Linked DNA regions of Homo sapiens: region 1 is linked to region 2. The links come from fine-mapping of genetic effects on gene expression. A gene starts in region 2. The other region holds a variant in brackets. All regions are shown on one strand. Distances are from middle to middle. Region 1 overlaps TMEM132B (transmembrane protein 132B). Region 2 holds the start of TMEM132B (transmembrane protein 132B).

What was found.
Region 1: its variant is fine-mapped to the expression of TMEM132B in atrial appendage (GTEx, PIP above 0.99).

Annotation. Positions count from the first base shown.
Region 1 is chr12:125,362,969-125,371,307 of GRCh38, forward strand. All of the region lies in intron 2 of TMEM132B (transmembrane protein 132B), which reads left to right. Among named protein-coding and RNA genes, the nearest start is that of TMEM132B, 180 kb to the left of the region's middle. The variant A/G (reference allele first, on the strand shown) is at 3,336.
Region 2 is chr12:125,182,121-125,190,459 of GRCh38, forward strand. TMEM132B (transmembrane protein 132B) reads left to right here and starts at 4,266. Exons shown (of 9, transcript NM_001366854.1): 1 at 4,266-4,746. The coding sequence starts at 4,680. RefSeq lists an enhancer at 3,467-4,000 and a silencer at 4,049-4,258.

The sequences.
Region 1 (8,339 bases), 180 kb after region 2:
TAGTCATTCTCCCATCAGTGGGCATTAGTTTGCCTCCAGTTTTTCACTGGCACCTCAAGCAGTGCTGCAGGGGACATCCTTGCCTGCCACGTTGAACACAAACAAGGATTTCTCTGGGGTCGAGGCAGCAGGGTAGAGTGGCTCAGAGCTTGGAGCCTGGAGCCAGTTTGCTGGCTCAAATCCTAACTTTACCATCTATAAAGTACCAGTTTTAAACTTAAGTGTAAATAAAGTTAAAAAATGAAGGCTCAATTGAACAAGGGTCCCCAGAGTTGCCAGCCCCAGGATGTTTCACCATCCCTTACTGATCCCCACAACCCTGCCTATACCTCTGTGAATAGTCCCTTCATGAGACCTTCTGAAGCCCTGATGGGTACAGTGGTGTGTTAGCACAGCGGTAAAGAAGGAAGCTGCCTGGATCCAGCCTAAACCACCTTTATGGCTTTGCATGATGTTTCCCAGGCTGAGAGTGAAGGTCTAGGGGCAAGCAGTGTGGGGTCTGCCTCCCCGTTGGAAATTTAACCCTATGAGATAGAGCTGGCAGTTTTCAGTGCCTAGTAGTGTTTTTTGGGCCTGAGTGAAATAGGGTTGGTGGCACCCCTAGGACTTTCTATTCCTTGTGTTTCAGACTCAGAATATTGAGTGTGTGTGTGGCAGGCACTTTGCTATGTGCTTTTTATCCATCCGTCTTATGTACTTCTTTTCAATGATCTTCAGAGGTAGCAGAATGAGCATCCTTACCTGTTACATGAGGAAACTGAGGCTTAGAAAGATAAGTGACTTCCTCAAATCCACAAAACCAAGAAGCTAGGGTTTGGACTCAGGTCTTCCCATGCCCAGAATCTGAGCATCTCACTACTATGCTAGGCTCAGAGAGGCCACATCTTGAGATGGTTTAATAGAAATATTCATTAGAGGAAAGTGGATAAATGAATAGCTACATATTTATACGGATGAATGCTCTACAGATATGAAAATAAATTCATGTCTCCATTCTTGGATAAATCCCCAAGATTTGAGGCTAAGTGGAAGAACAAAGCAAATTATTAGCTTATATCTACAGTAGCATACAGTTTAAAACGTGCAATATATTCATAATTCTATTTGTTGTATATAAACACATTCCTGTTTGGTCATGCATATATGTGGACATCATAAACACCAATCAAGGGACTGGTTATCTCTGGGGAAGAACAAAGGTTGAAGGGTGTCTAGGGAACTTCAACTGTATCTGCATGTTTTATCTGTTAATCTAGTTGGTGGGAGACATGGGTTTTCATTTTATTCCTCTCCATACTCTTTTACATATTGGAAATATTTTATATTTTCCCATATTTTATTTTGAAAAATTTTAAACATGACAAAGTTAAAAGAAATGTATTGTGAGAATCCATATACCCACCACTTAGATTCTACCATTAATATTTTACTGTTCTTACTTTACTACATATCTATCAATCTATCTCTTCATCCATCAATCCATCTTATTTTCTGATGTGTTTAAAAGTAGTTTGCAGACATTTGTTCACTTCCTTATAAATAGCTTAGTATGTACATTATTAGCTAGGATTTGATATTTATGTGATTTTGACTGGAATTACATTGACTATAGAGATCAATTTATGGAGAATTACCATTGTAACAATGTTGGGTCTTCCGATATAAGAACATGGTATATTTCCTCATTTATTTATATCTCCTTTGATTATCTTCAGCTATGCTTTGTAGTTTTCATTGTACAGATCTTGCACATCCCTTGTTAACTTTATTTCTTAGTATTTTATATTTTAATATTATAAATTGACTTGATTTTATTTTCATTTTAAGATGTTTTGTTGATAGGATATAGCAATACAGTTGATTTTTTTGTGTGTACTGAGGTTGTATCCTGTAACCTTGCCAAATTCACTTATCTGTATCTTTATACTTAAAATGTGCCTCTTGTAGATAGCATACACTTGTGTCTTGTATTTTTTATCTGTTTTGATAATCTGTATTTTAATTAGTATGCTTATTTCATTAATATTTAATATGTAATTTCATTAATGTGCTAGTCTATTAATATTTAATGTAATTACTAATGTTACCAGATTTGGGGTTACCACTTTATTATTTGGTTTCTCTTTTTCTTTTTGTTTGGTATTCCTCTGTTCTTCTTTTCCTGCTTTTTTTTTGGGCATTATTTGCATACTTTTAAGAATTCTAGTTTAACTTTTATATAGGCTTTTTAGCTGCACTTTCTTGCATTATATTTTTAGTAGTTGCTTCAGAAATTACCATATACATGCTTAACTTTTCACAGTCTATTTTGAGATAGACTTTCCATAAAATGTAGATAGTAGGTCCACTTAACCATCCCATGTCCTTTATGTTAATGTTACTTTGTATAATTACATAGATATATGTTAAAAACCCTCGAAGAGAATATTATAACTTTTACTTTAAATAGTTATATGTATTATAAAGACATTAGGAAGAAAAAGCAATAGTAGCCTTTTGCATTTATCCAGATTTTGCCATTTCTGATGTTCTTCATTCCTTTCTGGGGATCTAAGTTTTCATTTGTTGTTATTTCCCTTCAGCATGTATGACTTCTCTTGGCAATTTTTTGAAGTACATATTTACTGGCAATAAATTCCTTTAGTCTCTTTTATCTGAAAATCCTTTATTTCATTTTTATTCCAGAAGATTTTTTTTTGCTATTTGTAGAGTTCTGAGTTGGCAGTTTTTTTCTTTCAGCATTTTAAAGATATTGTTCTACTTGATTTAAAAATTATATTATAGTTGTACATATTTTTGGGCAGATGTGATATTTTGATACATGTATAAAATGTGTAATTATCAAATCAGGGTAATTGGCATATCCATCACCTCAAACATTTTTCTTTGTGTTGGGAACATTAGAATTCTTCTCTTCTAGCTATTTGGAAATATATAATAAATTATTGTTAACTATAATTTCCCTACTCTACTATTGAATACTAAAACTATTTCCTTCCATCTACTGTATTTTTGTATCCGTTAATCAACTTCTCATCCCTCTCCTTCCCACTTCCCTTCCCAGCCTCTGGGAACCTTCATTCTACTCTCTACCTCCAAGAGGCCCACTTTCTTTTTTTTTAAGCTGTCATATGTTAGTGAGAACATGTGATATTTGTCTTTCTGTGCCTGGCTTATTTAACACTTAACATAATGGCTTCCAGTTCCACCCACATTGCTGCAAATGACAGGATTTGATTCTTTTTATGGCTGAATAATATTGCTGTGTGTGTGTGTGTACACAGCACATTTTCTTTATTCGTTCATCCATTGATGGACACTTAGGTTGATTCCAT[A/G]TTGTGGCTACTGTGAATAGTGCTGCAGTAAACGCAGGAGTGCAGATATCTCTTTGATATGATGATTACCCACCAACAATGTAGGAGTGTTCCTCTTTCTCAGCATCCTCACCAGCATTTGTTATTTTTTTTATTGTCTTTTTGATAGTGCCATTTTAACTGGGGTGAGATGGTGAGATGTTTTGATTCACTTGCTTTTGACCTCCATAATTTCTGATAAGAAGTCAGCCATTAATGAATCAGTCACCTGTAGGTGATGTGTTGCTGTTCTTTTGCTGCTTTTAAGATTTGCTCATCATCTTTGCCTTTCAACGGTTTAGCTACAATGTGCAGAGGTATGGACTTTTAAATGTTTATCCTGCCTTGGGTTTGTTGTGTAGTTAAATTTGTACATTTATGTCTTTTATCAAATTTGGGAGAGTTTCAGTCATTATTTATTAAAATATTCATTTCTGCCTCATTTCCTTACTCCTCTGCATCTGGAATGTCAATTACACATATACTAGACTATCTATTATTATCTAACAGGCCTCTGAGTCTCTGTTCATTTTCTTCAGTCTTTTTTCTCACTCATTTTACATTGAATAATTCCATTGATTTATCTTCAAATTCATTGATTCTTTCTCCTGTCATCTTTATTTGGGTATTAAGTCCACCAGTGCAATTTTACTTTTAGCTATTGTAGTTTTCGATCTAGACTTTCCATTTTGTTCTTTTATTGTCATTTTTATTTGTTTGCTGAGTTTTCATGGCTTTTTATTCATTAAGAGCGTATTTTCTTTTACATCACTGATGACAGTTGTAATTAGCAACTTTAAAATGCTCTTCTGGTAATTCTAACATCTGGGTCATCCTCAGGTTGGTTTCAGTTGATTGTCTTTTCACTCTGGAATGGGTCTCATTTTTAAAAATCTTCATATTTTGGACAATTTTTTATTGTATCTTGAATATTATGAATGCTAAGTTGTGAAGACTCTGGATTCTTATTTTTGATTTTCCAGTAAGTGTTGTTTCTTTTGTTTCAGCAGGCAATTAATTTTGTTGTAGTCAAACTGCAGATCTCTTTCTTGGATCATAAGTACAATCTCAGTATGGATCTTTTATCTTTAGCTGACATGCTTTGAGACTGATCTGCATATACAAGATTCAATATTCAACCAGAGATATTGACAGGTAGAATTTGAGCATTCTCTCTTTCTCTTCCATGACTCTCTCATCTCTCTTTAGCTGCCATCTTGGACTCAGTCCTGTGGTTCCCTACCTCCCAATCCCAACTGCATTTTTTTCCAGGTTGATGCTCTCTCTGCATCCTACAATAATAACTGCATTATTCTCCAGGCTAAATGTGACAAAAATGGGGGAAATTCTTCCTCAGAGTGGGTCTTCCTCTGAGTATGGACTCCCCTCCATGATCTTCCTGTTTTTGTTTACTCTCTAGTGCCTTTGGATAGCTACTTTAAAAATTATGTCTAGAGTTTACGTAGGACCAACTCTAGTATCTCACTCAACCATTACCAGAAATAGATTTAGTTCATTTATATTTAATGTAATTATTGATGTGGTTGGAATTAGGTCTGCTATTTTTTATTTTTCTCATCTTAGTTTTTTTCTTTATTCCTTCTTTCTTGATTAATCTATTGTGTTATCAAATATTAGTATTTGATTTTAATTAATCTATTGGCTTTTTAGCTATATCTCTTTGCATGTTTAAGTGATTGCTCTAGGGATCATAGTATATATCTTTAAATTTATCATCATCTAATTAGAGTTGACATGTTATTTCTCTAGGTAAGTATAGTTACTTTACCACAGTATAGTCCATTCTCCACATCTTTGTGCTATTTTCATATATTTGATATCTATATATGTTTTGTTTTGGCACTTTTAAGATGACAGATATTTTGTAGATGGTCTCTTAATTTGGGTTTGTCTGCTGTCTCCTCATGATTAGATTCAGGTTATGCATCTGTTGCATTAATGCCACAGAAATGATACTGTGTTCTTGTTGCATCCTATGAGGTTGTGCATAATTTTAATTTGTCTCATTACTGTTGAGGTTCACTTTAATTACATAATTAAGGTGGTATCTGCCAGTAGTTTCAACTGTGAAGTTACTGCTTTTCTCTTTGCCGTTAATAAGAATTTTGTGGGGTGTCACTATGTGATATTATGTACACATTCCACCCCTCATCAAATTTTTATTTATTCATTGTTTAATTTACATTTGTATGGAGTCATGATTTCCTTTTTTGCATGGATTTGCCCAGTGGGAGGCAGCAGTGGAAGACTAGGATGGGAAAAGGTAGAGAAAGTAGAGAACTTCCCTCTTGCTCTGCTTCCTGATATGTCTCTGTCAGAGGCTGCGTATCCTCCATAGCTTTGTTCCTATAGGACACATGCTCCTCAGGAATAGACCCTGCCAGGAATTTAGCTCCCACTGGATGGTCCTAGTTCCTGGGCTTTTAGGTAACAACATCTCTTCCCTGTGTCTTGCTTGGAAATACAATTTTTTTTTACATTCAATTTGTTCCATGACAGGAATAAAACATGTGAGGTGTTGTTCCTGTCATGATTTTTTTAAATTATACTTTAAGTTCTATGGTACATGTGCACAACGTGCAGGTTTGTTACATATGTATACATGTGCCATGTTGGTGTGCTGCACTCATTAACTCGTCATTTACATTAGGTATATCTCCTAATGCTATCCCTCCCCCCTCCCCCGGCCCCATGACAGGCCCCGGTGTGTGATGTTCCCCACCCTGTGTCCAGGTGTTCTCATTGTTCAATTCCCACCTATGAGTGAGAACATGTGGTGTTTGGTTTTCTGTACTTGCGATAGTTTGCTGAGAGTGATGGTTTCCAGCTTCATCCGTGTCCCTACAAAGGACATGAACTCATCCTTTTTTATGGCTGCATAGTATTCCATGGTGTACATGTGCCACATTTTCTTAATCTAGTCTATCACTGATGAACATTTGGGTTGGTTCCAAGTTTTTCCTATTGTGAATAGTGCTGCAGTAAACATACATGTGCATTTGTCTTTATAGCAGCATGATTTATAATCCTTTGGGTATATACCCAGTAATGGGATGGCTGGGTCAAATGGTAGGAAATACAAATTTAGGTGTGTTTGGCAGTTTGATAATAATAACTGAAGCCTTGGAAAGGATGAGATTTTTTTCAGTAAAAATCATGAGAAGAAAAAAGAGCTCTTGAATGAATCCTGAAGGACTCCAACATTTGATAGGTTGATAAATGACAAAGATGAGACTTAAAAATGTCAGCCAGAGAAGTGGAGAAACCAAGAGAATATGATATCACACAAGCCAGTGGAAGAGACTGAAAACCACAGAAAGTCAGCAGAGTTGAATCCTGCTGAGAGCTCAAGCAGGGGAAATGAAAATTATTCCTTGCATTTTTACCTATGGAGGTCATTGGTAACTTTAATAAGATATTTAATGGGCCGGGCGTGGTGGCTTATGCCAGTAATCCCAGCACTTTGGAAGGCGGAGGTGGCGGATCACCTGAGGTCAGGAGTTCGAGACCAGCCTGGCCAACATGGTGAAACCCTGTCTCTACTAAAAATACAAAAATCAGCCGGGTGTGGTGGTGGGCACCTGTAATCCCAGCTACTCGGGAGTCTGAGGTAGGAAAATCACTTGAACCAGTGAGGAGGAGGTTGCAGCGAGCCAAGATTGTGCCACTGCATTCCAACCTGGGCGACAGAGTGAGACTCCATCTCAAAAATAAAAAAGATATTGAATGAACTCCTGGAAATAAAAGCCAGACTGGAGGGGCTTGGGGATGAGTGATCTGTGAAGTTAATCCCTGTTGTGGCTTAAGATCGGCTGCATGTGGTAGGAACCCCAAAGAACACTGAGGTCACCAAGACAGGCATCTATTTAAGGAAAGGCAGGAATGTCCACAGGTAGGTATTGGTTTGGTGGATCAAGAATGTTAGAGTATCAAGGATTTTATGATTATGTTGTTCTTTCCCTCACTGTCACAAGATAGCCGCTGCAGTTGTAGTCATCACATCTATATTTCACTCAGAAGGGAGAAAGGAGAGAGAGGAGCAAAACATCACGTGCATCCAAGTCTGCCCTTCTTTAAGGAACATTCCTGGAATTGTCAACCAACATCTTTTGACTGTTGCTTAATAGCCAGAACTGTTCTCACAATCAAGGCCATCCTGTAGTGAGGTAGGGAATTGTAGGTATTTAACTGGGCATCTGGGCAGTCCCTTCTCCCCCCATCAGGGTTTTCCTTCTTTCTTTTTTAAATAGACATGGGGGTCTTGCTCTGTCACCCAGGCTGGTCTCTAACTTCTGGACTCAAGCAATCCTCCCGCGTCAGCCTCCCAAAGTGCTGGGATTATAGGCATGAGCTACCGCATCCGGCCAATTTCAGGGTTTTCTTGATAGGGAAGAAATGGGTAATGGATATTGGGTGAGTAATTAGCATTGTCTGACACATGTGAGTTGATGGAAACAGGAAAGGCAATGTCTTTCTACGTTGTTCCAATGTTTGACTGGTGTATTAGGGTTCTCTAGAGGGACAGAACTAATAGGATATATGGATATATGACAGGGAGTTTATGAAGGAGGATTGACTTGCAGATAGGCCATCTGCAAGCTGAGGAGCAAGGAAGCCAGTAGTGGCTTATTCTGAGTCCCAAAGCCTCAAAAGTAGGGAAGCTGATGGTGCAGCCTTCAGTCTGTGGCCAGAGGCCTGAGAGCTCCTGGGAAGTCACTGGTGTAAGTCCAAGAGTCCAAAAGCCAAAAATCCTGGAGTCTGATGTTCGAGGGTAGGAAGCATCCAGCACAGGAGACAGATGAAGGCCAGAAGCCTCAGCAAGTCAGCTCCTTCTACCTTCTGCATGCTTTCTCTAGCCACACTGGCAGCTGATTGGATGGTGACCACCCACATTGAGGGTGGGTCTTTCTGAGTCCATTGACTCTGACTCAAATGTTAATCTCTTCTAGCAACACCCAGAAACAC
Region 2 (8,339 bases):
TAGAGACAGAAAGTAGTCTGGTGGGTGCTAAGGGTGGAAGGGAGGGGAGAATGGGGAGTGATTGGGTACCAGGTTTCTGGTTGGGTGATGAAAAAGTTCTGGAACTGGAGAGTGGTGATGGTTGCATAGCACTGCGAATGTACTAAGTGCCACTGAATTGTACACTTTAAAGTGATTAAAATGGTAAATTTCATGTTATGTGCATTTTACCACCATTAAAAACCAACACACGTGCAAACTGCTTCGAGCAGTGTCTGGTATGTATTCAATGATGCATCATTATTTATTATTATCATTATTATTTGTTATTAGTCTTGTTCTGCTCTAGCACACTTTACACTTGCTCCAAAATCCCATCCCGATGGTGCCTTCACCCCTGGCTGCCACCTCACACCCTTCCCAGCCCCTGCCGGTCCAGGAATCATTTTATCCTGGGAAGCCAGGGGTCAGAGCTCTTCAAGGTGCTTTCTGCTCAAACACACCAGAAAGCCATTTCTCCCCTGTGGCCTCCTCCCAGTTGGGAGTGGACCTGGAAGGGAAGTCAAGTCCTTCCTGGTCTGAGTGTTCATGGGCTCACATCCCAGGGCTCAGTGCTTACTGTACTGTCCAGCCCTGAGCTCCTTTCATTCATACATTAATATAACCAGGACTGATTGGGCCACTCTCTGTACATATGATGCTGGGTGGTAGCCACTGTTACGAAGAAGAACAAAGCAGGGGAGGGGACAGAGAGTGATATGGATGACTGCAAGTTGCCATAAAGAGGCTCCTTCCTTCCATCATGGGTCCATATGTCCAGGTGTGCAAGTAACTGATTTCTTGAAATTCTTTATTCTTAGTAAATCCTTGATTACCTGTATAAGTGAGCTTGGCTTCTATTTTGAGAGGCCCCTTTCCCCTACCACTCACCTGTGGTGCAAATGCAATCTAAGTCAATTCTGTGTTCCCTGAACATGCCAGAAACATCGATGTGTGCAATGGACAACAAACAGTCCCAGGCTTTGCAAAGAATTTCAACGGGTGGTCACCACGGCAGCAGCTGCCTGCGTGTTGGCGTTCAAGGGCAAAGGGGTCTGTTATTGCCGCTGCCAGTTGGCTGAGGTGGGGAAACCTCTCTGCCTATTCGCCTCCATCTCACCCCTACCCGCACCCCCACCCTGACCTTCCTTCTGCAGCGCCCTCCAGACCTGCAGTTCCAGTTTCAGCCACGAGATGGCAATGTTGCTCTTCGCCGGTAGCCCGGCGGGCGCGTGGGCTGAGCTGCAGCAGAACTGGGGTGCGGGGACGGACCGGGAGCAATCCGTGCTGGAGGCAGTCTCTTGCTGTGCAGGGGGTGGTGCGGCCTGAGGAAGCCTTGCATGGCTATGCTGGGGCTCGAGGCTGGCTGTTAGTCGAGTCGGCCTCCCCACACTTACAGATCCAGGAGAAGGACAATTCCTGGACTCAGTATCCCATCTATACTTAGGGGGAGATTGTAGGCTGTGTAATTCTTACGGTCCTGCCCAGGCTATGAGGCCAGCAGGCTGGGGGCGAGAGTCTAGGTAGGAGTGAGAGGAGAATTCCGCTCAGCCCTGGGGTCTCCTCGTTACTGCCGCCAGCCTCTCAGATTCCCCCCCGCCCTTCAGAATCCAGGGAGGCTTTTTTCCCCTGCTTATTTCCTCCAGAAACACCCCCTTTAGAGATACAGGCTTAGGGGCATGGTTAATATGCAGAAATCCTCATCCAACCACAAGACAGGCTGAGCCAGGCTGGAATTCTCATCCCTACCCCACGTATGAGCTCAGAGAGGATTAGGGGCTTGTCCAGAGTCACACAGCTGGGGCATGGAAAAGCTACCCTCAAAAGGAGATTCCTCTCTTCAGCGTCTGGCTCAACCACCATCAGCATATTTTAATGGGGAAGTGCCCTTCCCCACTGAAAGGTGCTTTCTTGGAGTATGACCAGGTAGTCCTGAGTGTGGGGTTGGGGGGAAGGCAACTGCCATCTGCCATCACACCTGGGACTGTGTGACCACTGGCTTGGGGACTTGCTGGACTGATTCACAACCCTCTCCAAGCACCGCCACTAAAGCCACAGAATGACCCCTTACCCTGCCAGAAAATGACTTTTATCTTTGGCCACAGTCTCCCAGCCTCACTGACCTGCTTCCTGGTCAAACACACGGTTCACCTTGGCACCAGCACCCCGCGGTCACTCCTGCTGTGGCTCTCCCCTGCTGTCGTCCATTCATTTCTGCTTCACCATCCCCTGCAGAGGCCGGCACACAGTAGGTGCTCAGCTCTGCAGATGCTTATGAACAAGTGAACAGGAAAGAGGTGTTGGGGGCAGCCGGGCACAGAGGACCCTAAGAGAGTCCTGACCACGTCTCCAGGATCATCCTCTTATCTGGGGAAAGGGTCACAGAAAGGGGACAGATGGGCCCCTCGCAAGGCCACCCTAAGCCCGAGGAGACCCCCAATCCCGTCGTCCAGCCTGTTGTATGGCTCTCCACACATTGCAGGCCTTGCCAGGGAGCCCAAAGGGGGCTTGGCCTGGGCATGGGCCCCTTGTAAAGGAAGCCGATTAACAGCCACGGGAAAATCCCTTTACGTCTCCTAATTAACCTGGGCTGGAGACTCACCACCTGCCCCTGGCTTTCTTCCTTCTTTTATCTAGGAAGAACTGAGTGCTGCCTCTGCTAATGAGCTTGTCTGTACTAATCAAGCAGGTGCCCTGTCCCCCATCCCCTCTTGGCAGCCGGGAGTGGGGAGGATTGTCCTTCTGATGTGAGCTCTGGGCCCGCAGAGGAAAATCAGATCTATCATAATAATGGCCATGATGATGAGAATGATAATGTTGACACTGACTCCTTTAAATGAGTTCCGACTTCCTAGGTCAGGGGCTTTGTATGTGTTATTGGGGACACCAGGTGATGTGCAATGCCTTCCATCTCTCAGATGAGAAAACTGAGGCTCAGGGAGGAATAAGGGACTCGCCCCAGCTTGCACAGCTAAGGAGCGGCAGAGCTGGGATTCTCAGCCAAGACTCCATGACTCCAGAGCCTTCCCCAAATCTGTCTTTTCATCACCCCACGCTGCCTTATTGACCATTTTCAAAGAGTTTGACCCACTTTTTCATGGAAAACTGAGATGGCAGAGCAAGTGGCTGGTGTGGTGGGGGCTGGGGCGGAGCCAGGACTCCAAGCCACCCTCCCAGGTGGGCAACCCCCCATATCCCCTGTCCTCCCAGCGTGGTGGGGAAGCTTGAAGGCATCTGAGCGCTGCTGGAGGCTCCCCCACATGCTCCCAGCATGACTCATTCATTCGGCTTAGCCCCCCGTGGCTTTGCCCTGGTTGGGGGTGGGGCGCCCAGGAGGATCAGTGGTTTCTGGGATAATAGGTACTGGGGCTCCGTGTGACCTGTGACCTCCCTCCGCACTCTGGCTGCGTCCCTGCCCCTGGATGGAAGAATTCGACCACCTAGTACCCGGCCCTGCGCAACACCTCCGCTCCGTCACTGCCTGACCCTGCGCTGGGAACTCATTCCCGGGACCGCCAGGGAATCTGCCCTTCCCAGGAGAACTCCTGGCTGCCTCCGCGTGCTCCTAGGGCCTGCGCGAAATGGGAAGGCGCATCCTCTAGCCTGGGTAAATAAGGGACCCTGCCTCACCCGGGTGGCCATCCCCAGGCCGCCTTCGCTGTGTTTCAGGTCACCGCACCCAGCCTGCGCACCCCTAGCCCCCATCCCGGTGCCGTGCAGAGGCTCTGCACACAGCCTCGGCCTCCCGGAGGCCCTCCCCTCTCTCCTCTCCCCTCTCCCACAGGCACTCCCTAGCTGTGCCACATTTAACCCGGGACCTCCTGTCCGCGCTCAGTCTTGCAGTCTCTGGCCCCGGCAGACACCACCTCTCCAGAGGTCGCTGCCCCATCCCGGTGACCCTCCGCTGGCCTCCTCACCCCTCGACCTTGGCAACTCCTACCGCTGCGCCCCAAGACGCCGGATCTAGCTGGGCATCCCCTCTCTGCATTGCGCACCCCTCCCGCAGCCCCTGTACCCGCGAGCGCCCGCGACCCCCGGCGGGCTCCCGGAGCCTCCCGGCCGGGCGCCCTCCCCCGAACCGCCGAGCAGTGGCGCGTCCCGCCGCCTACTGGCCGGGCTGCCGCCTGTGCCCCGGCTCCCGGGCGGCCCCTCCCCCGGCCGCGGCCCCGCCCTCCGCTCCTCTCCTCCTCCTCCTCCTCCTACTCCTCCTCCTCCTCCTCCTCCCCCCGGCGCTCGCTCGCTCGCTCACTCTCTCGCTGGCTCGAGGGGCGGCCGGCAGATGGCGATGGCAGAGGCGGCGGCGGCGGCGGCGGCGCGACCGGGATGGGACGGGCGCTGGGGCGCAGGAGCCGCGGCGGCGGCGGCGGCGGGGGCCGCGCAACTCGGGCCAACTGCGGGGCAGCCGGCCAGGGCGCGGGGCGCTGAGCCTCGGCCGCCCCAGCTCCCCAGCCACGCACGGCCGAGCCCAGGAGAGCGCGCAGAGGCGCAGCCGAGGAAGCGCCGCCAGCGCCGGCGCATGCGTCTGGGGAGGAGCGGCGCGCTGGGAGCGAGCCATGCCCGGCGCCCGGGCGTAGCCGCCGGGGGCTGCTCCGGGAGCCGCGGGCCGGGCCGGGCGCGCGAGAGGAGCAGCCCCGCGCCGCACCCACCGCGCGCCGAGGACCATGCCGCCCCCGGGCCGGGCGCCGCCGCTCGGGCTCCTGCTGGCGCTGACTGCGCTCCAGTGCCCAGGTAACGCGTCCCCGGACCCCATCCCCGACCCCGGCCGAGGCGCACAAAGTTGGGTGAACGGGCGGCTACCTCCTTCTCAAGTCCCTGGCAGCGCGCATCTCCCGGACTTGGACAGACCTGGGGAGACCCTGGGAACCCAGGAGCCCCCGGCGCGTTCCCCTTTGCCTAGCGCCTGGGGAGAGCCCGCCTGCCTTCTCCCCCAAACCCTTAGCTTCCTTGCGGATCCTTTCGGGACGCACGGGGGCCACAGACCGGGGCACTCAGCCTCTCGAGGCGGGTGGGGACGCGACTGCAGGAATCGAGCCCCCTCCCCGCCCTGCCTTGGGCCAAATCCCCCCCAGGTCCCAGTTCCTCCAGGGGTTTTGCTGGGCGGGGGCGTCGACGCAGCCCTTCTCCAGTGTCTTGCTGCCCGCGGTCGCACAGTGGTGCGTTCCCGGGACACCTGCGGGCCCCGGAGATGTCTCGGCCGGCGCTGTCTGGCTTGTCCGCAGCCCCTCCCCACGCCCCGCGGCCCTCCCCTGCTTTCACACTGCCCTCCCCAAGCTACCCACCCTCGCCAAATGGCCTCCTCTTGGCCAAAGAGCAGCCCGCTGCGCGCCTCCTGCAAACGCGGTCTACTCCAGCGCCCTGACCCCAAGGCGGGCGGGAGAGGGTAGCCGCGGCCAAGCAGTCCAGGACGCGCCGGGGAGCCTGGAACGCGGTGCTGTCCAGAGCCATTGCCTGGGCACCGGGGAGCTGGACTCCCTGCTGAACCAGCTCAGCTGTCGCCCAATCCTAGTGAGTGGGAAAAGCAAAATAGTCAGGTATTGTCTGTCTTCGCTGGAGTTTGGAAAGCTTTCTACCCACCTTGGTGTGGCTACATGTTGGTTCTATAGAAAGCGTATCCTAAAATGACAATTCCTCCCCTCCCCCCACCCCATGCAAGCAGTGGAGAAAATCCTAAAGGCTCAGATGAACCCCGGGAACAGTCACGAGCAGCCTTCATGTGCTTTTGAAATCTCAGTTCTCCAAACCTTTTAAAATCAAGACCCATGATTTGGGAACAGGTAGCTTTTGCTTTAGAAAATCTCTCCCCATTTCCTTAACAAACAAATCGCACAGACAGGCAGAATGCAGTAGAAAAATACAACTATAACTTTTCGGCTTTCACTGTCTTGGTAAGGTTGCAGTTAGGAGCAAACCTGGCATGTCAACTTGATGTTCGATGTATTTTATTTGCATGGAAAAAGTCAGTGTCGGCTTCCTTTGAGATGCCCTTAAGTGACCCAAAATATTTACCAACACCTTCGACTTGAAGAAAACCTTCTATTGGAGATCTCCGTCAGCGTTCGGCTTTGGTTCAGCCTAGAGAATGGCATTGGGCTTAACGTGGATGAATCTTGCCTGCTTGGCTAAGGAGCAGCTATGATAGCTGTTTTGCTTTCGGCATTCCTCTGCGGTCCACGAGAGGGGCTGCTGCTGGGGCCGAGGCTGTTTTCTCTTAGCTGAAGCCCTGGGACCTGTTTGCAAAAGTGCAGTCCCTCGGACTTGAAAATTGCAGTTTTGTCTCTATTTTGTTTCTCCACGGGGGTCAGCATTTGCCTGGATGTGCTTATAAGTGAATATCGGAAGTCTCTCAGAGAAGCTGCCTGCATAATGCTTTGTAAGAGAATAGGATGGTCCCCCTACCACCCCCCCACCCCCGTCCCCCGCCCTCTCCCCCAGCAACAGAAGAGCCTGTGCCTGGCTCTGGAAGGCCCCATGTTGGGAGGGAAGGTGAGCTCCCACTGAAACCTGCTGCTGGCCGGCTCTTTGCCTGCTCCCCTGCTGTTCTTTGGGAGAGTCTCAGCAGGGCAGCTCGTTCCGACAAATGCCGTCCGGGCAGAGCCCCCAGTGCCATCGCCCCGTCCCTGGAAGCACATGCAAGTCTTTAACTGGTCCCTACCAGGGACATAAAGAGACGACAGTTTGATAACTCTATATTTAGCACTAGTTAGGAGGGATGGCAAAAAAAAAAAAAAAAAAAAAGAAAAAAAGAAATTCCTGAAAGATACTTAGCTGCCTACACTTGGTTTTGAGAGGTTCAGAGGAATTAACCAGAGCTTCCTTCAGGGCTGGTTGGATTTTCTGGGTGATTTCTGCCATGGTTTACCGACCCCCTTTGGCTGAGGCTCTGGAAGAGGGGCTGGAAGAGTTCAGAGGCAAAGATGCGCACACTGTCTCCCATCACACACACGCAGGGACTGGCTTCTTTGTCCCCCACCCCCCTTCCTGCGTGGGTAGCTGCCATGGTAAAGAGTAGGGTGGGTGTACTTCTTTCAGCCTTGCAAGTGCTTAAACATATGGAACTGTACTTGGTAAGAGTCAGCACAAATCCCCCAGCTTAGCGACTAGGGGGCCCCTATTATTCGAGCCACTTTTGTACATGCTGTGGCTTTGCAAATTAGCGGTGCAGTTACAGTCCCTGCTGAGGAAAATGAACGAATCTTGCTTCGTTGACTCATTATGCACGGGGGTCTAGGGTCTATGAAATCAGGGTGGGTGGAGCACCCCCACCTGCCCCACGACAGAGGGGCCACATTGAGTGGCAGGGGGGAGCTTTGGCTTTCAGGGCAGAGGCTCTCTTCCTCCTGCCTGGCACCTTGGTGTGGCATGTGGTATATTTCTCATTACAATAGTGATGGGGGGGGTGCCTGTGTGTGGCGCTGCCCTTCAGAGAGGTGGCATTGGGAAGTGGTGGGGAGTGGTATGCAAATGTCGTCGCCTTCTCCAGTGATTTAATGGCTGCACAGTGGAGGTTCCCAGAGTAAATCATTTCATCCCCTCTCCTCCCACCGGATGCAGGGAGTTGGGGAGGCGTGGGGCTTCTGCATGAGCTACTGCACTCAGAGCCAACAATGAGCACGGTGGTTGCCTTGATCCAAGGGAGCAAAAGAAAACCCTCATTTGTTGGCTGGGAGTCTGGGGTGGGGGTGGTCTCTGGGCCGGCAAAGCCCTTTCAGGGGCCTTGTTCCCAGATGCGTCTCCCAGCTCTATGTGGCTGGGTGGCTCCTTTCTTCTCTTCTGTGTCTCAATTTGAATGGGGATGGAGGGGGTCCATTTCCCCTGAAGCCATGGGACTCAGCAATCACTGTGGCGAGATGGAGGCACCCTGGTACCGTGGGTGACGGGGGTGCTGCCAACTCTTCAGCAGAGTAGGTGGGTTGACTTCTAGAGCAAGAGGGTGCCTCAGAGCCCCTCCTTCAGCAGCCCCCGGCAGATGGGAAGGAGACTTGGGCACAGGGACCGCCTGTTCAGGGTCACACAGTGAATTGGAGGCCTGGGCTCCCCTCTCCTTAACTCCTCACCTATGACTTTCTAACCCTGTACCTGGGAGCTCTTCTGGTAGAGGAGTTCTACCATACAGTCCTTTAGGGAACTGTGACTCCATACAAGGATCCCAAGGTCATGAGAATGACAGCCGCCTGGCCTGGCCAAGACAGCCAGTGTCAAATCCGAAAGTTAGAGAGCAAGTCTTAGTGGTGATGGTGATGGGAAAGGGGTGGTGATGGGGATGGGAAAGGGGTGGTGATGGGAAGAGGTGGTGATGGTGATGGGAAGGGGTGGTGATGGGG